Linked DNA regions of Homo sapiens: regions 1 and 2 are each linked to region 3. The links come from fine-mapping of genetic effects on gene expression. A gene starts in region 3. Each other region holds a variant in brackets. All regions are shown on one strand. Distances are from middle to middle.

Region 1 (8,000 bases), 750 kb before region 3:
TGAGCTATCTAGGTCATTAGCATTTTAGCGTATGCAAGACTTGACAAAGCTGATGAGGGGCCAGATGGGCCTCGCTCTTATGGTTTTTTTTTCTTCTTCTTCTTCTTCTTCCTCTCTCTCTCTCTCTCTCTGTCTCTCTCTCTCTCGTCTCTCTTCCTTTCCCCCCTCCACCACTTGGGACCTGAGCGAGAGGACTGCAGCAGGCGAGTTCCGGAAGGCTGAATCCCCAGGTCCCAGCCCCGGACCGCGGCAACTCGCCCCTGCGGCACGCCCGGCCCGGCTGCGCCCCCACTCAGCGATGGAGGTAAAGAGGCGGCGGCCGCGCGCCCTGCCCCGGCTGCCGCTGCCGAGTCCCCGCTGCTCTCCTTGTCCTTCGCTCTCTTCTTCCTCCTCCTAGTCCCCTTCAGTTTCCTGGGCGAAGCAGAGGGCGACATGGGTGGGTGGGTTGCTGCGCTGGGGCGAGGTGGGGTCGATGTTGTTTTTTCATTGTCTGGAGCTGCAGGGGAGGCGAGGCGCGGGGAAAGGGGCGAGGGGAGCCGGGGTAATTAACACGGGGGAGGCACCCCTCCGTCTCCCACTTCCACCCACACCCCCATCCCTCCACCCCCTCCGCTTTGCAGGAAAAAGCCTGGATGCGAAAGGATGGGGGAGAACAAAGAGCCTTTGGAAGACGTCGCTGTTATCTCATTGTCTGTGTGATTGGGGGAGCTGCGGCGGGGAGGATGCTGTGGTCCCTTCCTCCGGCGTTCCCCACCCCCATCCCTCTCCCCGCTGTCAGTGCGCACGCACACGCGCCGCTTTTTATTTCTTTTTCCTGGTTTTCTTATTCCATCTTCTACCCACCCCTCTTCCTTTCTTTCACCTTTCCTTCCTTCCTTCCTCCTTTCCTTCCTCAGGAGAAAGGCCTCTCTCTCCGTGTTCACAGCGGACCTTGATTTAAATGTCCATACAATTAAGGCACGCGGTGAATGCCAAGAATGGGGCTGGCTGAGCACCGTGGGTCGGCGAGGGCCCGCCAAGGAAGGAGCGACCGACCGAGCCAGGCGCCCTCCGCAGACCTCCGCGCAGCGGCCGCGGGCGCGAGGGGAGGGGTCTGGAGCTCCCTCCGGCTGCCTGTCCCGCACCGGAGCCCGTGGGGTGGGGAGGTGTGCAGCCTGTGACAGACAGGGGCTTAGAGATGCAAACAGACTCAGGGAGAGAAACAGAAGCTGATTCTGTGACAGAAGCAGATCTGTGCAGCACAGATGCGGTGTGCGTGGGGAGGGGGTCGCCTGGGAGCGCATTGCGGAGTGCTTGTGTGTGCAGATTTTTCTCTGGGCTCAGGACTCATTGTATGTGGGTCAACACCTTCCTCCGTGACTGTGTTTTTGTTCTGAGCTGAGTTTTTTGGTTTGCCCTTAAAAAAATAATAATTTGGCATCCAGAGACTGGCAGACTGCCTCAGGGCCTGGACTGCGGATATATTGTGTTCTGCTTGAGGTTTGGGGAGGAGGGCAGGCGGTAGGAAGGGAGAGGGGGAGCTGTTTGTCACACTTTGCTGTAGAGCTGAGAGCACCTGACAAGCTTAAGGAAGTCGTTGGGCTATGTGGACAAGAAGGAGCCAGCTCCCAGCGGGTTCACAAGCTCTATCGGAGTTGAAAGCGTGGTCATGGCTCTAAGGAGCACCTCACGCCCTCCCTGTAGCTGTTATTGCAGTTTCAGGCAGAGATCCAGGAGCTGCAGAGGAAGGGAGAGGCACAATAACCTACATGGACCCAAGGGAGACATGTGTTCCTTTAAAAATGTGAACAGAAGGAAAAACAGAATGTGTGCAACTGGGGGTCTGAGGAAAGACTGTTTTGAAAGAGGCTGTCAGGGAATGGAAAGGGTTAAGCTTTTCATCCTGAAGAACCTGCTTCCCAAATCAGGCCTTCCTCCCATCACTAGACCCTGAGCAGCAGCTGGTCCTAGAGACCCCCCTCGTACTGCGCTGCCACAGTCTCATCCCATTTCCAGCTCTGTATTAACCACCAAGCTGCAGCGGATGGGGCAAGACCTAAGCTCATTAATTTCCAGGTGGAGGAAATGGAGGAGGGGCAGGTCCCTGCAGTAGAGGGAGGAGCAGAGAAAGGAGGCCAAGAGCTGGATCCTTCTGCCCAGGAAGCCTGCTGCATCCCTTCCCCCGAGCATGGCAGAGGCCTGGCTTTGCAAGGCCAAGGCCATAAGGGATGCTTAGGAGATTAATTTGATTCCTGACACAATAATCAAGCCCTAAGAGTCTCCACTGAAGCTTACTGAGGACTTCTTTCCTCTCCAAAGCCTCAGTCTAGCCTGCTAAATAAATTAGTATTCAGTGATGCCTTGGATCAGGGCCCCTCCCCGGCCTCAGTTTCCCCAAATATTTATTAAGTACCTACTGTGTGCAATCCTTGTGTAATTATTAACTCTTAGGCTCTTCATTTGCCCTCCTAAAGCAGTGTTTAGAGTCAGGCAGAGGTTAAGTGTGTTGCACCTCACCTAGATACTTCCAGAACCTTCTCTGGGTCTGCAGAATGTGGCACAACCTGCTTGCCCCCGCAGAGAGAAAGCTGCAGTGCACATCCTGCAGACTGCAGGTGCTGGGCTGCCTCTGGAGTCCCAGAAGGCAAGCTTGGCTGCAGGACAGAAAGGGAGAACAGCTTCTCTCACCCCTGAGCCTTCACAAGCCCTTGTCTATTTGCCGTTGCCTTCAAAATATACCTCCCCCGAAACCAGTAGCTTTCTGAGTCCTGGTGTCCCCTCCGCCCTTTCTGGACAGGTTTGGGAAGAAGAAAGCAGTCAGTGCTGGGCCTTATTGGGGTGTGAAGCGCCTTGCTCTGCCCCTTCTGCTCACTGTGAAGGCCGCTGGATGCTTCTCTTAGGCATGGTTTAAGCCTCCGATTACTAAACCCCTTGCCCCACAAACGTCCACATTGACGAGCCTCTTTTTAGTAACTGCTTCCCCGTAATTCCTTCAGAGGTTGCTGTACCCTTCGCTGATGTGCTGCCCTCCTGTAAAACCTCCAGATGCCTTCCCACGTAATGCCCCTTTCAGATGCTTTAAGCTGAGAGCTTAAACCACAGGTACCATGGCTGACGCCTGCCAGGTTTCTGCTGCAGATAATCTATGATGGGAGGGGCATATTTTTTACTTCATTACTTATGTAAACTCTTGTTCCAGAAAGCTTTAATGTGTGTGGGAGTGTTCTGGGTCTATTAGGTCTGTGCGCATGGGTGTGGGCATTTGCCTGTGTCCACCGGGTGGGTCTCATTATGAAATGTATGTTTATGTAGGGCTTTAATGGCTGAAAATGGCAAAGAGATGAATAGACCACTTGGCCCCATGTGTAATTGCCAGGCCCCTTCTGTGCTCAAATGAGGTGTCCGAGTGAAGGTCAGCCCTTCCCTTCTGTATTTGGGGCCTATTTATGCCACCAGTAATTTTATAAGAAATCTGAATAGTTCTCCCCTTTGAGTGCATTTAACTCTTTAGTATCTTCTCTCTTACCTATTTGAGCCCCTCTAGCTACAGTCTGGCTTAAATGAAAGGGGAATTATATGCTTAAGAAAAAGTAGGACACGGTTGAGGCAGTTTGCTGACTGAATACGCGAAGAAGGACCTGATGGGCTCATATGCACCACTGCCATCACAGTCCCCATCGTGATGCAAGCTTATATGATTCTTGAGGTAACTCTACCAGATACTTCCAGATTTAGAAATGTGTCAAAGGAAAAATTGGTGATACTCTTCTTTCCCCTGCCAGAAACAGCCCAGATCTCCTCTTAAGCGGAAAAGAGATTGACCTTCTAGCAGAGGCAAAGGTAAACTCCTGTAAGTTACTTCTGTTACCAAAGGGAGGGGGGCGGCTTTTGTGAATGTATGAGGAGCTTTTGCCAGAGAGATATTCGGAGGAGGGGTGTGCCCATATGCACACATATATTTTCCCGCATAACCGTATCCAATGCTAGCATTTAGAGGAAGGCATTTAGCCACCAAAAGTCCATCCATCTATGCTGCTTCCACAGAGAAAACATTTTCTCTTTCCTCCTCTTGAACTTACATAATATCCTCCTCCCATTCCAACCTTAGAATGGAGTCTTCTGGGGGCAGCTGCAAAGCGTTCTCCCTAGGACAGATGGAGCCTCCCTTTCCTCATCTACTCTGTGGGTGGTTTCAGGGCCCACGAGTCAACATGAGGAGTTGTGCTGGTGGTATGTGTGTTGGAGGCTGGGCTGGCTGATTCACAGTGACGAGGATGTCAATAATAACAAGAATGAGAATGATGGTACCTAATAAAGACTTTTTTTCCCAAGTCCCATCTACAATTCTTTCATTGGGTGTTTTGCCAAGTCTTTCTCAATCTCATCTCAGCTTTTTTTTTTTTTTTAAAGAAAATGTATTCAATACTTAATTGCATCACAAATGTAGACATAGAAGAAAGGACTTCAAACGGAATTTATGGGAGGCAATGTGTGCGGCTTTTTGCCTTATAGAGCTGTGTAGAAGGTCTGGAATGATCTTCCAGCACCAAATTTAGATGGCCTCAAAAAAAAAAAAAAAAAAAAAAAA[AT/T]CAGGCCTTATTGAGGGCAAGGAATGTTCCAGGTCAGAAATAAAAGTGTCAGCAACTCTCAATAGGTTCATCTTTTTATTTCCTGTCCTTCTCCCTTTTGTCTTAAAATAGAAACGCTACCAAGACCTGAGGGCCTGGGTCAGGGGCCGGGAAGCCCAGAAAACAAACTTCCAGAATCACTAAGGGCTTTCTCTCTCAAAATTACAGTGGGAGGGTTCTTTTGAAATTCAAATCCAACCTATTTGTTGCTTAAGCACACACAAAATACTGAGACCTGGGGTCCAAGAGGCAATACTTCCGCTGCAAGTGCATGTTGCAACTTCGCGTGATGTTCCCAGGGCGGTTCTGCGGCAACTTGCGGCTCCGCGACTGTGGGCGCGGGCCCCATTTCGGGCCCCGTCGGCCGGGACCGCGCCCAGGGCTTCTCAAGTGACTCGCTTCCCAGCACGCAAGAGGCATTCTCGTCTCTTTCTCTTCGAATGCACCCGAGACTTCTCCATGAAGCAAGGAGAAGATGAGCAGGCGCTGGTTTCCCTTTTCTTTTTTGCTCCCATTTCCCAGTCTTGATTTTTTTTTTCCCTTTCTCTCTCTCTCCCGAATCATGCAGACCTGGAACTCCTAAGATTCGGGTCCTCCTGCAGTTCCCAAAGCTTTGGATCCATCCGAGGTGTGGGTAGATGCGGGTTAGTCTCAGGGTCTTTCTAGGATGAGCCCCAAGCCCAAGTTCTAAGGCGAGGGGGAGGCGAAGAGGTCAGGGCTACAAACGCCAGGGACTGTCCCCGGAGAGGTCATTTTTCCATTTTCCATGCACATCGATTTCACTCTAGCGCCAGATGGACACTCGACGGTCAACGTTAGAGATTTTTCCGGAGTCGGGGGCAGGAAGCGGGACGAATTGAGACGAGGGTACATCCTTTGCTTCCAAGGGTGGCCGAGCCAGACCGAAGGCCTGGGCGGGAGGTCACGTCCTCCCCTGGCCACCCACAGCGCTCCCCAGCCGCAGGCCTGGGCCTAGAAGCCGCGCCCTCCCGGCCGTGCAGCCGGTCAGCCTGTGCGCCCGGCGCCCGCAGTGCGGCTCCGGGCCTCTCTCTGATCCACTTCAGTACCTGCGGCCTCGAGGACCCCACCGTGCATCCCGGAAAGCCTCAGAACTTGCAAGAAAGAGGGGCTGGCAGGTGCAGCCTGGGAAGAGGACCCCGCCGCGAAAGCGCTTGGGGGTTGGGTTTTATTTGCTGGAGTGGGGGGTCCGTCTCAGTGCATCCTCCTGGATTCCCCATTAGGACGCCCCGCCCATACATCCAGCCTCCTCTCCCGGATACCCCCAGTGACCCGGCCAGGGAGCGGGCATCTTCCCCCAGGACCCAGAGACGTGTCCTCGCCATCCCCAAACACCGTCCTTCCCCACCCCCGCAACCCTCTCCACAGAAGCCAAAACCACAACAAAAATCTTCAACCCACAAAGAAAAAGACACATTCCTCCTTCGGCCTTAGTCAGCGTTAGTTCCAGATCCGAAGCCGGAGGGGACGGAGCCGCTCGAAGTCGGTTGGAAGGAAGGCGCAGAAGGCTCTTTCTGTCTCCATGAATCTCCTTGCAAATGCAACCGCTGCTGCCATTAGGACGCGGTCTCTGTTTGCAAAAAAAACTCAATTCCTTCCATTTCCTCATCTGTTGGGTCCATCAGCGTGCAGTGAGTGATGCAAGGTCCCTTTGGGTCAACAGGCCGTCCCCTGAAATAACTTTCAGAGCCCTGGCCTCAAGGTCATGGGCCGGGTGGCCTCTACAGGCCACAGGTCAGGACCAGGATGTGCCTGACTGAGGCTGTGCCACCGAGAGCTTCGGACGTGCAGAAAGGTGCCCTGAGCTGCACGGGGGGCTTCTGTCAGCCCCCTCCCACTCTACACAGATTGATGTGGCAATATTTATTCCCATTTAATTGAGACACTGGTTTAATTTCAGATTGCTTCGGCTTAAGGCCCAATGGGGTTTTCTGCAGCTCTTTTCCCCAGTGCCTCTACAGAAATTAATTGCTGTTAATATCCAATTTTGGCTTTATTATTCGTTAGCCAATTATGTATCCCATAGCCCAGGCCCCTTGCTGCTCTCAGCCTTTGCTGGAATCAGCTCACACTATGCCGGGCTTCTGCTTTTCTGCCTTCCCCTCTATTCAAACTCTGTCCTCCCAAGATGATTTACCGGCCCGTCAGGCATTTTGCTTGTGTCCCAGCGCTAGCTGAGCTGGCGGAGGTGTCTTTAAGACGTTTTCCCCCTTTTGAGGGAAATGTCTTCTTTGCAGTGGACATAATTTCCATTTAAAAAGGAATCTAAGCTTCTCCACTCTCGCTTCACTATCCTAAGATTTGCTTTCTCTGGAGCCATTTTTGGAGAGCAGTTTTCCATCAAAAGCAAGCAAGGTGCCCCGGCATCAGGGCTCCCCTCCCCACCTCCCTAGGAGCCCCTCCGAGACTGTCTTAAAGCCACCACATATACATAACACCATAGATTCAAACAGGGTGCTTGGAGGATGTCATTCCACATTTCAAGGAGGGAAACTTGAAAAAGCACTATTTTCAGAGATGAGGAGGGCAGCTCTCCCCTCGTCCCCCACAGAGGCCCTGGAAACCATTCCAGCCTTGCACTGCGCAACCCTGCTTGATGGAGCTGATGCAACTGGGGGCGAGAGCCTTTAAAAAGTGTTCTTTTGCCTTGGTTTTTTGTGCCTTGAGTTCACAGAAGCAAACACTTCCCATCACTGGTGCTCTGGAAACAGAAACATACAAGTGAGAATCCTAACGACAGCAGAGGCCCTTCTTTGTCTGCTTCCTCTCCTTCCCCCCTTGGAAAGAATGCCTCCCATGCCTTAATGTGCCCTCACACTTATCTCTAGCAGTTCCGTAACAACCTGCGCAGTGTCGGCATCAGAACCGAATGCAGAGAAAACAAAACGTCAGAGCCGCTGGCTTGGACTGCGGCCCCTACAGATGAAGCCCGAGGTGGGAGGTTTTCTTCTCCGCCTGGAAATCCTATGGTCAGATTTGTCGTAGGGGGGAGGTGGGTGGTGACTGTGGTGGAGGGCTGGGACATTGTTAAGAAGGTGCCTTACGCAGAAGGCTCAATAAATACCACCCAAATTGGATGTAATTAAATTAGCAGCAGCTGTCCTGCTTTTCCTGTTGAAAGCTACAATTAGGCATGAAGGCCTCCTGGGCAAAGGCTAGTTAGAGTGGCGTCCTAGGAAAGGAGGGGGCTAACAGTGTTTCTGGTTCATCTTCTATCCTCAGCCCCTGCCTAGCTTGTCCAGAGGCATGGAGTTTCTTTTCTTTTCTTTTCTTTTCTTTTTTTGTTTGCTCGTTTGTTTGTTTTTGAGATGGAGTCTGGCTCTGTTGCCCAGGCTGGAATGCAGTGGCATGATCTCGGCTCACTGCAACCTCGGT
Region 2 (8,265 bases), 64 kb after region 3:
AACATTAGACCTTGACCTAAGAACCACAGTCAAATTTATCTTCCCTGATGGATTCATTTATAGAAAGGCAAAGTTCAGACTTCTGTGTTTGACATTGAAATGCAAAATAAGCAAAACATTTTTATTTGAGCACAATATCACCAAATAATGGCAAGAACTCTTTTTTTTTTTTTGAGACAGAGTCTCGCTCTGTTGCCCAGGCTAGAGTGCTATGATGCAACCTCCTCCTCCTCCTGGGTGCAAGCCATTCTCCTGCCTCAGCCTCCCAAGTAACTGAGATTACAGGTGCATGCCACCACACCCAGCTAATTTTTGTATTTTTAGTAGAGACAGGGTTTCACCATGTTGTCCAGGCTGGTCTTGAACTCCTGACCTCAAGCGATCCACCTGCCTCAGCCTCCCAAAGTACTTGGATTACAGGCGTGAGCCACTGCTCCCGGCCAAGAATTCTTTCTTGTGGTGTTGTTTTCTAACTTTCTTGCATGTGGTGATTAAGTCAGATGCTGAAGAAGGGCCGACAGGGAGATAAAATGCAATTTCTGGGTGTTCTTGAAAAATTAACTTGCAGCATTATTTTAAACTTACACATAAATAAAATAGGGGAACATATATGTGTTAATATAAAGACTGTTGATTTTTGGAAAAAAATATTTTCAGAAGATCATTGGTGTCCCTTGCTGAATTCTGAACTTAAATGCAATTTTCTAGCTCCTTAAATGCTAAGTATTAGAAAGTAATATTACACACTATAAAAAGTTTATAAAATACAGAAAATAAATATTACCCCAAATTTCATCACTCAGAAACAGCTTGGAATATTTCTTCTCTGTCTTACTCTCCTCTCAAGCCTCTCAAATTGCAATTATACTGGAAAGTTCATTGTTTTATTGTGTTGTTGTTGTTTTTTGATCTTGTGTCTTTCCTCCACTTATTATTACTTTGAAACCATTTTCTTGTTTCACCTATTTCTTTTCTAAAGCACAATCTATAACTGAGGACATAGTTTTATCTATAGAGGAGGACCCCAGAGAGAGTTTCCTTTCTCATTTCTTCTCTTTTGTCCTATTTAAACTTTTAACCGTGTGCATGTGTAACTTTTTCCATTTAAAAACGAATACTCCTAAAACATCATCTTCACAGACTGTGTAATTCCAACGTATTCTACTTCATTTTCCACTCCTGGTCATGTAGATTTTTTTCCAATATTTTACCATAATCAATAAGCTAGAGTAAGTACCCTTAACATAGATCTTCATCTGCATTGCTGATTATTTCCTTTGGCTGGATTCCTAGAACTAGAATGATTGGGTCAACCAATGAGAACTTTGAAAGGCTTTTACATCACTGGAGAAACAGAACAAGTTGGCACCAAGGTGTCCTCCCACCAGCAAAATGCACCTGAGCTCACCACACCCCTTCTCTGTCGGCCCCTCTTCCTTTCCTCTCTCACAGCATATCAGGAGGAGGAAGAAGCAGTGGAGTTTCTGCATAATTGGGTCAAGCAAGTGTCCTGGGTCCTTGGATAAGGTTTGCTTACAAGGAGAAGGTGGGATTTTCATTACTGGCTCTTGGTGCCTGTCTGTGTCTCCCGGTTGCACATCCGCACACGTGCAGATTGGAAACATGGCACAATGAGACTGATGACAATCCAAAAAAATGCAAATGTGATATCATCTCAGCCGTCATCCTTGCTTTGCAAGTAGCACACCCTCTTTGCCAACGGTCGAGTCAGGAGCCGTTCTCTTGGATAATTTCAGGGAATCTGTCTCATTGTTCACATTCACATCCTCCTCCTCCCAATCTTATTTCCATTCCCACCAGCAAAATGCACCTGAACCCATCCTGCCACACCTTTCATTTCTTCACTGAAAAGCTAAGCGGACTCTGCCACCTAATCCCTCTGTTTTTCCTAATGGTGGGAAACAACAAAAACCCAAGGCATCGCTCCGGCTACACAAACCTCGTCATTTTGTACAGCTAGTGAAGAAGAGGTGGGGAGAACAGCATAGGATTGGAATCTGTGGGCTCCGGGCAGGACTTTGATGGTGACCAGGAGTGGAGTTCTGAAGGTAGAGCCAGGAGTCTCCACTCAGAGCCAGTGGGGCTCCTCTCTGCTTCCTCCTCATAGGGCATTTTCTTCCCTCTGAAGTTTGCATCATCTAGGGGACCACAGTGAACCACCAGTGGTCTATGGAACATACTTTGCAAACCCTTGTGTCCAAGTCATTCTCAGAAAAGGAAGAAGAATCTTAAGTTCCCCACTGGAAAGAGATCCAGGCTGCGTGTGGTAGCTCACACCCATAATTCCAGCACTTTGGGATGCCAAGGCAGGAAGCCCACTTGAAGCCAGTAGTTCAAGACCAGCCTGGGCAACACAGCAAGACCCCATCTCTATTTATAAATATTTTTAAAATTAAATAAATTAAAGAAGGTGAGAATGGTCTGGAATATGCCAGAATCATCTTTCCCTTTGGCCTATATGTTTTACAGGCAACAAAGAAGCACAGGTGAGAGAAACTCAGTGAAGAAAAGGAAAGAGGAGAGTGAAGCGGGAACCATGTTATTTCCCTAATCTATTTGAGGAAACCGAGCCTTAGTGATGGCGAATAACTTGCCAAATATCACACAGTGAGGAAGTGGTTGAGCCACAGTTCTACCCTAAGTCTGGCTAACTCTAAAGCCAAGGCCACCACATAACACTGTACGTGCTAACCCTGCAGCTTAGGAACTAACGTCACGCTGCTCTCCAGGGTAGGAGGAGCACGTAGTGAACCTATTAACTCACCCGCATGACCTGGTCAGGGAATGTGTTTGGCCTGTTCTGCAGAGACACTCATTGTCAACTCCCTGGTTAAACCCTCCAGCATGCTACAATCCAAAGGCAATGACGTGCATGTGAGCAATGAGGTGGATTCTCTGAAATTACCCAGGAGAACAGCTCCTGACTCAGCTGGTGAAAAGGAAGTGTGCTGCTTTCAAACAAAGGATGACTGACTAGCAGCCAGCTGAGCCCACAACTTGCACTGGCTGAATGGGCATTGCTCCCCCTCTGCGCCATCTCTCCCACCACTTATAAATGGGTGGATGGGCAACACACAGAGAGATACTCACTGTTAATCTCCCAGCAGTTTACACAAACGTCCGCTTGCATCACATGTCAAATTTCCTTCCCACA[C/T]AAGCTGTGGTTTGCCGGTCGCCACTCCTGGTCCTTTCCTCTTTCTCTTTAATGATAATAAGAATGTCGAGAGCTTTAGCAGAATGGGCACAACTTGAGCTAACGGAATACCGTAAATGCAATTTCAGCGACATTAAATAGTTCAATGTTTAACAGCAAAGAAAGTGGGAAATTGAGTCAGTGAATGGCTAATTTGACCTGAATTATTCAGAAAACACTTTAATTTTTTTTTTTTTTTAATTTACAGAGGCTCAGACACAGAACAAATGCATGCACTGGTGTTAAATGCAGAGAAGAGAAGGTGTTATCTCCTGAAATGGATTCTGCTTTCTTCGGGGTTAGAAGGCCTCCTTTTTGAACTGACCTCAACCCTGCTGATTTTGTCTCCTTTCCTGGCCATGAGGATCAGAAATCAGCAATGATTTCATAAGTAACTTCTCATGAAACCACATACCGCAGCGTGAGTCACACATGTAGCTCTGTGCACCTGTAGGCGTATATGCCATTCTTTTTAAATCTGCCAGGAATGTGATGATCAACTGGACCCAGTTTGCCTGGGATTTTCCTTATTTGTACTGAAAGTCTTGTATCCTGGGAAATCCCTCACTTCCAGGCATACTGGTGTGATTGACCATCCCACCCAGGAAATGAGGAAGAAGCAAGGGGTCCTTAATGTGTTGTCCCTACCTGAATCTGCCCCTTTCCCTCTCTGTGAAAGTAGGGAACCTCAAACCCTTGTGGGGCCTGATGCTCCCACCCAGCTGCATGGGGAGGACATTTATGTCAACTTGAGCAGAAAGTAGGGGATCTAAATTTATCTATTGAAATGTGTTGCTACATCTCCAAACTAAGATGTCTGTATCTGCGTGTGCATTAAAACACATATAATTACACAAGGAATACATGATCACTGTATAAAAATAAAAAATAAAAATCAAAATAAAAATAAGGGCAGGGTGCAGTGGCTCAAGCCTGTAATCCCAGCACTTTAGGAGGCCGAGGTGGGCCTAAGGTCAGGAGTTCGAGACCAGCCTGGCCAACATGTTGAAACCCTGTCTCTACTAAAAATCAAAAAAAAAAAAAAAAAAAAAAATAGCCACATATGGTGACATGCACCTGTAATCCACAGTTACTAGGGAGGCTGAGGCAGGAAAATGGCTTCAACCCGGGAGGCGGAGATTGCAGTGAGCCAAGATCGCTCCACTACACTCCAGACTGGGCAACAGGAGTGAAACTCCATCTCAAAAATAAATAAATAATAAATATAATTTAAAAATAAATAAAAATAAGATGAAGGTGGGGGGCAAGGGGAGGGAGAGCATTAGGACAAATACCTGATGCATGTGGGGCTTAAAACCTAGATGATGGGTTGGTGGGTGCAGCAAACCACCATGGCACACATGAACCTATGTAACAAACCTGCACATTCTGCACATGTATCCTGGAACTTAAAGTAAAATTCAAAAAACTTAAAAAAAAAATAAGATGAGAAGGTGAGAAGGAGGTCAAAGTTACTCAGAATCCTACCGCCCAGCACTAACTAGTTTAAAACTAGTTAAAATTTTGAGAATTTTCCTGTGTACACTTATAGATTATAATGTAGGCATATAAATGGGTATACATAATAGTAAGTCCATTGCAGGAAAACATACAGAATAATGGTTTGACACTCTTGCTCAGTCAACAGTATGAGTATTTATCCAAGCCAATATGTATGTTTTTACAACATCATGTTAATGGCCACATAATATTCTATAATGTGTGTTTATCACAGTTAACCACTTTGATTAGGTAGGACATTTAGGCTGCTTTTCATTTTTTACTGTTATAAACAGTGCTGAAACCAACAGGCTTCTTGCTATAATATTGAACACATCCTTACTTATTTTGTTACAATGCATTCTTAAGAGTCAAACTATGGGTCAAACAGAATGAATTGGTTGGTCGGTTGCCTAGTTTTGAGACGGTATCACTGTGACCCAGGCTGGAGTGACGTGGCGTGATCTCAGCTTGCTGCAGCCTCGACCTCCCTGGCTCAAGAGATCCTCCCACCTCAGCCTCCAGAGTAGCTGGGACTACATGTGCACATCACCACACCCATCTAGTTTTTGTATTTTTTGTAGAGACGGGGTTTTGCCATATTACCCAGGCTGGTCTCAAACTCCTGGGCTTAAGTTATCCTCCCACCTCAGTCTCCTGAGTAGCTGGGACCACAGGTGCAGGCCACCATGCCCAGCTAATTTTTGGTATTTTTGTAGCATTGGTGGTCTCACCATCTTGTCCAGGCTGGTCCTGAACTCCTGGGCTCAAGCAATTTGTCCACCTTGGCCTCCCAAAGTTCTGGGATTATAGGTGTGAGCCACCACACCTGGCCCGCTATCCCTGTTTTTTTAGCATTCATGGTAAATGCCGCAGTCTAGACAAACAAATTAGGACTTGAAAGAGGACGGGAGTTATTTCCTAATAGTAGGATAAAATTCTCTTTTCTGTGATTCCTCCTGGTTGCTCAAGAGATTATCTTCTAGATACACACAAACCAACACATGCATGCTTATGCACACACTTTAAAAAAAGCATCTTGATCATATAAGAGTTTGCTAAATTTGTCCTCAGCATGGAGACTGCCATTAACAAGTTAGAAAAAACCTGCTGTTCTGCGTCTCACAGACCTCAGCTAAGGAAAGACCACCATTTTATGGACACCAATCCCAACAGCTATACTTTGTTATAAATTAGCGTCACATATTCCTGTTTAATTCTTATTGACTCCTCCTCTAACTTTTACTGTCTCATCACTTAGAGTGAATCTAAATTAGGGGCCCTGAACTTTCTCTGTTAAGGGCCAGATAGTAAATACTGTAGGCTTTGTGGGCCATTACAGTCTTTATCACAACCACGACACTCTACAAGTTTAGTACACAAGCAGAGAGAGGCAATACATAAATGAATGAGTGTGGCTGTGTTCCAGTAAAAATTTATTTATAAAAAAAGATGGTAGGGCCGGGCGCGGTGGCTCAGGCCTGTAATCCCAGCACTTTGGGAGGCTGAGGCAGGTGATTACTTGAGGTCAGGGGTTCAAGACCAGCCTGGCCAACATGGTGAAACTCTGTCCCTACTAAAAATACAAAAATTAGCCAGGCATGGAAGTATAAGCCTGTAATCTCATCTCCTTGGGAGGCTGAAGCAGGAGAATCACTTGAACCCAGGAGGCAGAGTTTGCAGTAAGTCGAGACCATGTCATTGCACTCCAGCCTGGGTGACAGAGCAAGACTCAGTCTCAAAACAACAACAACAGCAACAAACAAACAAAAACAGAAAGAAAAACAAAAAAAGCGGTGGGCACAGAATGTAGCCCTCAGGCTGGAATTTGCTGATGTAAATCACCTAGGGTTTGTTACAAAGCAGATTGGTAGGCCCCACCCCCAAATTTCTGATTCATGAGGTCTTGGGAATAGGTCCAAGAATCTGAATTTATAGAAGTTTCTAGGTGATGTTGATGCTGTTGGTTGGTGGGCTGGAGGGGGATGCAGGGGGGATTACATTTTGGAAACGACTGCTATAAGGTGGTCCCATAAACCCATACTTAATAAATCATCATATTCATACAAATCACAACATTTTTCTCCTGAGCGACTGAAGTGCTTGTGTACACCTCTCCACTTCAGCTTCTTCAGAAGGTTAGAATGATCAGCTTTTGTATCAGTCCAGCTATCTGGTAAAAGTCAGTGGAATCTCTCTAGCTAGTGTGTAAAGGAAGGGCTTTATTAATGTAGTTAGGGTACTCACAAACTCCTTGGAAAAAGAGGGAGGAATATTTTCCTGGGTCATCTTCCAGGAGCAGCCCCCAGAATGCCATTGCAGAGCTGACCTGATGGCATGCACCCAACCCCTCCCGCTTCCTCCAAGCCCGAGTCCTAGTCAAAATCTTGCAGCAAGAAGGTCTGACTTTCCAAACTGAAGTTGAGTGTCTGAGCTGTGGAGTTAAGGGAGGCTGGAAAATGCAAATTTGGGGATTTGATATCGGGAAGGCAGGCAACTACACAATGATAAACGTGGGGCAACCAATGTTCAGGTTTAGGGCAGCCACTGTCCATACAATTCCACTACGGGCAAAGAAAAGGTACAGTGAGAAGTAGAAAGTTACAAAGCAATAAAGTCCAGCTCTCTGGAATTCATTTCAAAATAATGTAGTTGGAATGGACAAAAATGTGGTGGAATAGATGAGGCGGTATTCTTTGAGACAGGGTCTCAATCTCACTGTTTCCCAGGCTGGAAAGCAGTAATGCCACGAAAGCTCACTGCTGCAACCTCCGACTCCTAGGCTCAGGTGATCCTCCTGCCTCAGCCTCCCAAGTAGCTGGGACTACAGGTGCACACCACCACACCAGGCTAAATCTAAAAAAAAAAATTTTAGGCTGGGCACGGCGGCTCACGCCTGTAATCCCAGCATTTTGGGAGGCCGAGGCGGGTTGATCATGAGGTCAGGAGATCGAGACCATCCTGGCTAACACGGTGAAACCCCGTCTCTACTAAAAATACAAAAAATTAGCCGGGCATGGTGGCAGGTGCCTATAGTCCCAGCTACTCAGGAGGCTGAGGCTGGAGAATGGCGTGAACCCAGGAGGCGGAGTTTGCAGTGAGCCAAGATCACACCACTGCACTCCAGCCTGGGCTACAGAGCGAGACTCTGTCTCAAAAAAAAAGAAAAAAAAATCATAGAGACAGGGTCTTGCTTTGTTGTCCTGGCTGGTCTTGAACTCCTGGATTCAAGCAATTCTCCCACCTCAGCCTCCCAAAGTGCTGGGATTACAGGCATGAACCACTGTGCCAAGCATGAAGCAGTATTCTTCCCCCCCGCTTTTTTTTTTTAACATGGACCATGCAAAACTCTGTATCATTTCAATTTTAGTATATGTGCTGCCAAAGTGAGCATCATGAGGCAGTATTGATTATGAGTTGATGATTGCTAAGGCTGGATACTGAGTACAAGGTGGTTCATCGCACTGTTCTCTCTTCTTTGGTATATGTTTAAATTTTTCCTTAATAAAGAGATAAAAGTTTATAAGGCATCGAAAGCAGAAAGAAAAAGA
Region 3 (8,238 bases):
TGAGCAGAAAGCTGATGTGAACACATGTATAAAGGAACACTGTTTAATATTTAAGCCAGAAAGAGGACCTAACTTTTAATCAGCACAGTGGAAATTCTCTGGGTACTTACCGAACTCTGCGTCTTTGCCAATTCCTGCCATGTTCCCTGACATGACCCTTTAACTCTAACTCCTCCTCCAGGATCCCAATGATCACATCTATAGGATCAGCCTCTGGTCATCCCCATTCCCCCCCCAACTCTGCTGCTAAACACACAAGGTCTTCCTCTTAACTCCCCTAACACAGAGACTTACCTTAACATACATTTATCCCAAATCAATATTTTTTTTAGCCTATGAGCTTCTCAGGGGTAAAATTATATTTCACCTATTTTTCCACGTTCAGCATCCCGGCTTAAGGAGGTTCCTTAGTAATATGTCGTTGAATAAATGAATACATGAGTGAATGAAGAGAGGACTGAAGAAGCCACACATGAGCCTAAATGCAAGGAAAAAGATGGACAGTGCTACCACTAACAGCCATGAAAAAGAACAGTTTCTCCCCCTCCCCCTCCCCCTCTCCCGTCTCCCTCTCTTTCCACGGTCTCCCTCTCATGCTGAGCCGAAGCTGGACTGTACTGCTGCCATCTCGGCTCACTGCAACCTCCCTGCCTGATTCTCCTGGCTCAGCCTGCCGAGTGCCTGCAATTGCAAGCTCGCGCCTCCACGCCTGACTGGTTTTGGTGGAGACGGGGTTTCGCTGTGTTGGCCGGGCCGGTCTCCAGCCCCTGACCGCAAGTGATCCGCCAGCCTTGGCCTCCCGAGGTGCCGGGATTGCAGACGGAGTCTCGTTCACTCAGTGCTCAATGGTGCCCAGGCTGGAGTGCAGTGGCGTGATCTCGGCTCGCTACAACCTCCACCTCCCAGCCGCCTGCCTTGGCCTCCCAAAGTGCCGAGATTGCAGCCTCTGCCCGGCCGCCACCCCGTCTGGGAAGTGAGGAGCGTCTCTGCCTGGCCGCCCATCGTCTGGGATGTGAGGAGCCCCTCTGCCTGGCTGCCCAGTCTGGAAAGTGAGGAGCGTCTCCGCCCGGCCGCCATCCCACCTAGGAAGTGAGGAGCACCTCTTCCCGGCCGCCATCACATCTAGGAAGTGAGGAGAGTCTCTGCCCTGCCGCCCATCGTCTGAGATGTGGGGAGCGCCTCTGCCCCGCCGCCCCGTCTGGGATGTGAGGAGCACCTCTGCCCGGCTGCGACCCTGTCTGGGAGGTGAGGAGCATCTCTGCCCGGCTGCCCCGTCTGAGAAGTGAGGAGCCCCTCTGCCTGGCAACCGCCCCGTCTGAGAAGTGAGGAGCCCCTCCGCCCGGCAGCCGCCCCGTCTGAGAAGTGAGGAGCCTCTCCGCCCGACAGCCACCCAGTCTGGGAAGTGAGGAGCGTCTCCTCCCGGCAGCCGCCCCGTCCGGGAGGTGAGGGGCACCTCTGCCCGGCCGCCCCTACTGGGAAGTGAGGAGCCCCTCTGCCCGGCCACCACCCCGTCTGGGAGGTGTGCCCAACAGCTCATTGAGAACGGGCCAGGATGACAATGGCGGCTTTGTGGAATAGAAAGGCGGGAAAGGTGGGGAAAAGATTGAGAAATCGGATGGCTGCCGTGTCTGTGTGGAAAGAAGTAGACATGGGAGACTTCTCATTTTGTTCTGTACTAAGAAAACTTCTTCTGCCGTGGGATCCTGTTGATCTGTGACCTTACCCCCAACCCTGTGCTCTCTGAAACATGTGCTGTGTCCACTCAGGGTTAAATGGATTAAGGGCGGTGCAAGATGTGCTTTGTTAAACAGATGCTTGAAGGCAGCATGCTCGTTAAGAGTCATCGCCACTCCCTAATCTCAAGTACCCAGGGACACAAACACTGCGGAAGGCCGCAGGGTCCTCTGCCTAGGAAAACCAGAGACCTTTGTTCACTTGTTTATCTGCTGACCTTCCCTCCACTATTGTCCTATGACCCTGCCAAATCCCCCTCTGTGAGAAACACCCAAGAATTATCAATAAAAAATAAATAAATTAAAAAAATAAATAAATAAATTAAAAAAAAAGAAAAAGAACAGTTTATGGAAGAATAATAATTTACTATGCTTAGCCACTGCTGTTTTCTGGTTTCATTTTTTTTTTTTTTTTTGGTTGGGGGAGGAGGGTTGTTAAATAAAATTAAAGCTGTAACCCAATGCCAGATATAATAGAAAGAACTTGGTGTGCATTGACTGATGCAGTAAGCATTGAAATTTTCCATTTTCACTTTCTCTCTTTGTTGCCATAAAATGAGAGGGTGAGGCAAGATCGTGTCTGAGGGTGGGTCCAGCTCTCAGGCTCTGGAGCTCTGCACTGCTGGGTCTCCTGGTAAAGCCCTCCTCTGAGCTTGCATCTCAGCTCTATCCTGATGGCAAAGACTGTGCTCTTTTCAAACTCATAGATGACACCCTCCTACCTACTAAGGCTGTGGTGTACCACAACTAAGTTTAACCCCTCTCTCCTGGTCTGAAAAAGTCATCTAAACCACAGGGGAAATTATTGACCATGGTTTCCTAGATCTATGCAAGAAAAATGCTCCCAAACCCTAATGCTACAAAGCTGTATTTACTTGTCCCAACTCTTTCCCGGTGTGGTTCGGATTACCCTTTGCCTGCATATGTTTTGCAATACCTCTTGGCTCTTCATCTTTGCCCACTCCTCCAGCATGCTCACTACACCTGAGAAACTTAGCCAGTACTTGGCTTAAAAATCTTCAACCTACTCATCACCTAACAAGAGAGGGTTTAAAGTTGGCAGAGGGAATATTGCACAGAAACGCTATTTGCCAACCACCTACCAATAGCTGACTTCACAAGTGGTCCCTTATCAGATCTGCCCATCAGAAAAGAAGGAAGAAGATTAATGATCATTCTTCAGACACCAGGACTCCCTCCGGGGAAGCTCTCTATAGAGCTAAAGGCTTGTATTGGATTATTGTCACCGATCACTGTTTTAGGCTTGCATTCCTAGTAAAATTGAAGCTGAGCCTGTATCCCTTACAGTAGAAACTCCCAAATGCCATATTCAACATAATGAGTTTTCAGAAAGCTAAATATATCCAATGGGAAAGACTGGCCATTACATCCTTCCTGCATTTCGTTGTTATTGCTATTAAAGTGTACTTTAAAAAATAAAAATAAAAGGATAGTAATAGAAGACAGCAGGGTTTATTTTCATGTCTTTCTTGGCAGTTTAAAAAGTTGGCAATCCTATATCAATTTCTAATTTTTTTCTAAAACTCTACTGGTCATTAAAATTAGAAAACTGGTAGCCTCATGCCTAAAGTGGCTAGTTCAGATCAAGTTACATGTAAACTGAAGAAAGGAAGAGCCTCTGATTCAAACTCTTTAAGGTCATCATTTTTTTCTTTTTCTAAGACCATTTTCTATAGATCTCAAGGTGCATAATATGCATCGCGGAGGCCCTGTAGATTTAGATAGCGATTATAACCGATTCAAGTCAGGAAATTTCTTCTGAAGTATACCTACCTGTGAAACCCTCCATATCTGGGGCGCTCTGTGCCACGGGTGTCAGACTTTTGCAAAAGCCCTGTCATTCTAACGGGACGCCCTCCTGTAGGAAGTTGCCCCCTGGCGCCCGTCCTCCGGCTTCTGATGAAACGGCGACCCACCACCCCCTTCCCAGACCCTGGCCCGCAGCCGGATCACTCCGGGCGCGCTGCCGATCACGTGGCGAAGCGGTGCTCCCCAGCGCCGTGGCTGCGCGCCCATTGGTCGGCGGCTGGAGTCCCGGGCGCGCCCATTGGCTGCGGGGGGCGTTCACGTGGCAGGGGGCCTGGGATGGACCCCGGGGTCCCGAGAGCTGGCAGGAAAGTTAAAGGGGGCAGCGCGGCCGCGGGGAGCTCGAGTCCCGGGTGACTGCTGGAGGGAGGAGGTGACCGCGCAGCTCTCGTGCACGGACGGACTTCGCCGCCCGCGGGGGGCGCGAACCCGAGCCCGGGCCCAGCTCCTGCCGTCACGGCAGCTGTCCCTGTTCCCCCAGGGCGTATGCTGCCGCGGGCTGGCGCGTCTGCCCTCGGGACTTATGAGCTGAACCCGGTACGTAGCTCCCCAAGTCTCGAGTCCGAGGGAAGGGCTGGGGACAACAAGGCGAGGGCGTGCAGCGGGGACCTCTTTGGGTTCCTGTCACCTACATTTTCACCGTGCGACTTGCACTGGCACACCGGGGCTGGAACACTCTAGGTAGCTGGCCCCAGGGAGCTGTTGCTTCAGCGTGGAGAGGGCGATCCAGGGACCGCAGCTGGGAAGCGCCTCCCGGGCCCACGTGCTCCACCGCGCTGCTGGGCCCGGCTGCGACCGTGACCCGGGAGCTGCGGCTGCGGCGGCTGATCCCTTTACCACCTGTTGTTCTGGCTTCGAAACTAGCACAAGTTCCCAGCCCCGGGTCCCGAGAGGTCTGGAGACTTCTCCAAAGTTGGGTAGTGGGGTTTGGAGCTTAAGGACAAGCCGCTTCGTCTCTCTCCGGGCCTTATTTTCCCTATAAAACGCGAGGAAATACACTTGGTAGGCTCTCAGGCCACCGAGGGCGACGGGACCTAGCACGATCCCCGTCCCGGGCTGGCGGAGGCCAGGCGGCCGCGCGGGGGTGCTGGTGTCGCGCTGCTTGCTCCGGCCGGGGTTGCCCCTTTGCCGGCCCCGCCCGGGTGCGATAACGGGCTCCTCCTCCTCGTCGTCTTCCTCCCACCGCCGACATCTCCGGGAACCCAGCCCAGGCCCTGCCTCCCGGACACACCGACGCTCACGTAGTCGCGCTTGCCACAACCCTGCGGGCTCTCCGATGCGGCGAGCGAGCTGGGGAGGGGGCTTCTCCGCGGCCCAAAAGGTGGGTGCGGCGCGAGGCCAAGGAGGCTTGTAGGGAGGTTGGGGGCGGAGTGCAGCCCTGGTCAAACTGGACGGAGGGGACAGAGTCGGAGAGTAACTTGTGGGATCCTCCAGCCTGGAGAGCACTGGCCTGCTCCTGCGTCTCTTTGGAATCCAGAAAAAGGGGTGTGGAAGGCACAGTAGCTGCAAAAGAGGGAGTGGGGGCCGGTAATGACTTACTGGAAGATTTGGGGCCTGTCAGAGCACTGTTTTCTGAAAAAGAGGAGAAAACAGAGGAAAGACTGGACTTGGGAACTTGGAGACTTGGAAGGTGTTGGAACCTGTGGTCTGAGTGGCGGGGGCCTGCCTGGGAGACCCAGGGTGCAGCAGAAGAGACAATTAGAGCTTTGGTCTGGGAGGAAGAGGAGGAGAGGAGGAAATGTTTCCTTGGGCAGAGTTGTCCAGGAGCCAAAACTAAAGTGAAGACAGCTGGAGGACTTACACAAAAGTACAGTTGAGGTATTTAGGAAAAAAAGTTAGTGGGAAGAGAAGCGGCACCAGGGGTGGGTCGCAACATACAATGTCAGGGCCAGCAGGGACCTTGGAGGGGACCTCAAGCCCAGAGCAGCTGAGTGACTCGCTCAAGTAGCAAAGCAAGGTGCGGGCATTCTTAGCCTAGTACTCTGTTTTCCCTCGTACGTTTTTAGACGGCAGGGGCTGTGTCATTTGAACTTGCCTCTTTCCTAGAATATGCAACTGTATTCACAAATGTCAGTCTCCAAGATGCTTTGGATGATGGGGACAGGATCAAGGGGTACAAGGAGCCTTTAAGGCTGTGAATAGGCCCCCATGGTCTGAGTACAAAGGGGAAAGACATGCACTCTCTTCATGCTGGATCAGTGAAACCTTTTGGAAGGGAACACAGAATTGTTGGAGGGAGGTAGATGGCCATGTCTTTAAAAATGAAAATTATAACCTGGTTGTGAATGTTTACTGAATGCAGTTCGGCAGCTTTCAGTGTTCCTGGTGGGTTGCTTGTGCATCTGATTTTTTTGTTTGTTTGGTTTTGTTTGTTTGTTTTGAGACGGAGTGTCGCTCTGTCGCCCAGGCTGGAGTGCAGTGGCGCCATCTCTGGCTCATTGTAAGCTCCGCCTCCCGGGTTCACGCCATTCTCCTGCCTCGGCCTCCTGAGTAGCTGGGACTACAGGCGCCCGCCACCACGCCCAGCTAATTTTTATTTGTATTTTTAGTAGAGACGGGGTTTCACCGTGTTAGCCAGGATGGTGTCGATCTCCTGACCTCGTGATCTGCCCGCCTCGGCCTCCCAAAGTGCTGGGATTACAGGCGTGAGCCACCACGCCCGGCCTTTTTTTGCCTTTTTTTTTTTTTTTTGAGACGTAGTTTCGCTCTGTCGCCCAGGCTGGACTGCAGTGGCGCCATCTCGGCTCACTGCAAGCTCCGCCTCCCGGGTTCGCGCCATTCTCCTGCCTCGGCCTCCTGAGTAGCTGGGACTACAGGCGCCCGCCGCCACGCCCGGCTAATTTTTTTTTTTTGTATTTTTAGTAGAGACGGGGTTTCACCGTGTTCGCCAGGATGGTCTCGATCTCCTGATCTCGTGATCCGCCCGCCTCGGCCTCCCAAAGTGCTGGGATTACAGGCGTGAGCCACCACGCCCGGCCTTTTTGTCTTTTCTTACCAGAAGAAAGAGAGAGAGAGAATAAGAGAATGGAGGGGATAATGTCGTGGCCCTGATACAAAAAAGATTTCCTCCCTATGAAAGGTACAGCCAGAAAGTCAGTAGTTCAGCTGCCTGAAACCGTGAAGGTCATAGGGTTATTTTCTGTGCAGGTCTATAGTTATCACCATGGCCGTCTAACCTTGGCCAGCTGTCTTGAGAAGGTGTGTTATGAGTGGAACAGATAAAGCATTTATGCAAAACTATCTCCATGATCTGTTAGGGTTTGCCCTGTCTTAGCCATGAACACTGTAATCTACCCTCAAGCATGGCCCAGTCTCTCACCAGAGAAACTGATCCCTGAGCTCTGAGGCATCTCTATGGAAGCAAGTGTTTGAGAATTCATACCTACCTGGGAGCAGCACTCATACACTCATTCCTATCCTGCAACTGGTATCAGATCCTGAGTCCTGCTCTCATGGTTCAAATGTATGTCCATAACTTCTGGTTCTTTTTTTTTCCCCCTTGGCCAACTTTGGTGACTCATATTCCCTGGCCTGGGAAAAGGACAGAGCTGGAGCAGCCAGAGAGTCTGTCAGGAGAGGAGGCTGGGCTGCAGCCTGGTGCTTCCTGTGTTGGAACCGATCATTTTCATGTCATTTGTAAAAGAAGCACCTGTCCAGGTGCCTTCTTTTCAGGAACTTAATATTACCTTGCACATCTCAGTTGCTAGGAGTACTTCTGCATGGCGGCAGCCATCCCTGTCACAGTCCGCTGGGGAGTTCCTGAGCAGTTCAGGAAAGCCTACACCAAACCAGCACTTTGGTGTGCTGATTCTTGGAGAATGACCTGGTAAATAAAATCTGGAAGCTATCTGTGGGACAGGCAAGGTGACTGACAGTCGAGTCATACCCCAGATTGAGGCCACACAGGTTAATGTCCTCACCTGCAGTTATGGTGACACACAAAGTGAAGGGATTCTAGACTGGGGTTGCTTGTGCAATGTCCCTGGGGTAGTAGTCCTGCGGGTAACTCTTGAGCCATCATAACCTTACTTTTGCCTTTCATGGAAGAATCTTGTAATAGCAGTTTGGCTCCTTCAAGTGCCAGCAGCATTGTTTAATTAGCTCTGGCTCTGACTAGAGCCTGGCCTCTCCAAGCCGGACTTCTGCTTGTTCTTACAGCTTGGTGATAAAAAGGGATCTCAGGGACAAATTTATGCCACTGGGGTGAAACAGTGAAACTCTACCAAGGTCTTCAGCTAAGTCTCTTCAGCCTGCGGGATTAGAACTTGGGACATTGGCTCTAGTGGGCTGTGTGTAGATTCTTTGATTGATCCTTTTGCTTTGGCTGTTTCCACAATATCTTGAGAGTTTCCAAGGCTTTTCCTAACATGCAGAAAAAGCACGTAGGAGGCTGGTTTGCAGGCTTCTTGGAAGTGCAAAGAGAACTTGCAGATAACCTGTGCTGACTCAGTTGAGGAGGAAGCTGTGAAGAGGAACCCTTCCTCCCTCAGTTCACACCCAGATTTTTCAGGATGGGTAGAGTGGGGGGCACTGGGATGCCAGATATAGCCTCTTGTTTGGTTTTCGTACTTGTTTAAAAACAAGGCTGGGCACGGTGGCTCATGCCTATAATCCCAGCACTGTGGGAGGCTGAGGGGAGCAGATCATGAGGTCAGGAGTTCGAGACCAGCCTGACATG

Direction of the effects. Positions count from the first base shown, and alleles are read on the strand shown. Sizes are in standard deviations (SD) of each study's normalised expression. Not every link is listed here.
As copies of AT replace T in region 1, the expression in subcutaneous fat of the gene that starts at base 4,786 in region 3 goes up (large effect, 0.79 SD a copy in FUSION).

Evidence for each region. PIP is the estimated chance that this variant, and not a neighbour inherited with it, causes the effect.
Region 1: its variant is fine-mapped to the expression of PPP1R3B in subcutaneous fat (FUSION, PIP 0.95).
Region 2: its variant is fine-mapped to the expression of PPP1R3B in whole blood (TOPMed, PIP above 0.99).

The regions. Positions count from the first base shown.
Region 1 is chr8:9,896,374-9,904,373 of GRCh38, reverse strand. It overlaps MIR124-1HG (MIR124-1 host gene), which reads left to right and starts at 1,045. Exons shown (of 3, transcript NR_024281.1): 1 at 1,045-3,685; 2 at 3,762-3,819; 3 at 4,088-4,310. MIR124-1 (microRNA 124-1) reads left to right here and starts at 902; the gene lies at 902-986. LOC124902057 (a long non-coding RNA gene) reads left to right here. Exons shown (of 4, transcript XR_007061170.1): 4 at 187-304. RefSeq lists enhancers at 6,195-7,076, 7,077-7,959. The variant AT/T (reference allele first, on the strand shown) is at 4,568.
Region 2 is chr8:9,083,416-9,091,680 of GRCh38, reverse strand. It overlaps a transcript of ERI1 not described here. Among named protein-coding and RNA genes, the nearest start is that of SNORD3I, 29 kb to the right of the region's middle. The variant C/T (reference allele first, on the strand shown) is at 3,176.
Region 3 is chr8:9,147,206-9,155,443 of GRCh38, reverse strand. PPP1R3B (protein phosphatase 1 regulatory subunit 3B) reads left to right here and starts at 4,786. Exons shown (of 2, transcript NM_024607.4): 1 at 4,786-4,881. It overlaps PPP1R3B-DT (PPP1R3B divergent transcript), which reads right to left and starts at 3,719. Exons shown (of 5, transcript NR_183348.1): 1 at 3,528-3,719. RefSeq lists silencers at 3,782-4,031, 4,532-4,801 and enhancers at 4,152-4,391, 4,438-5,386.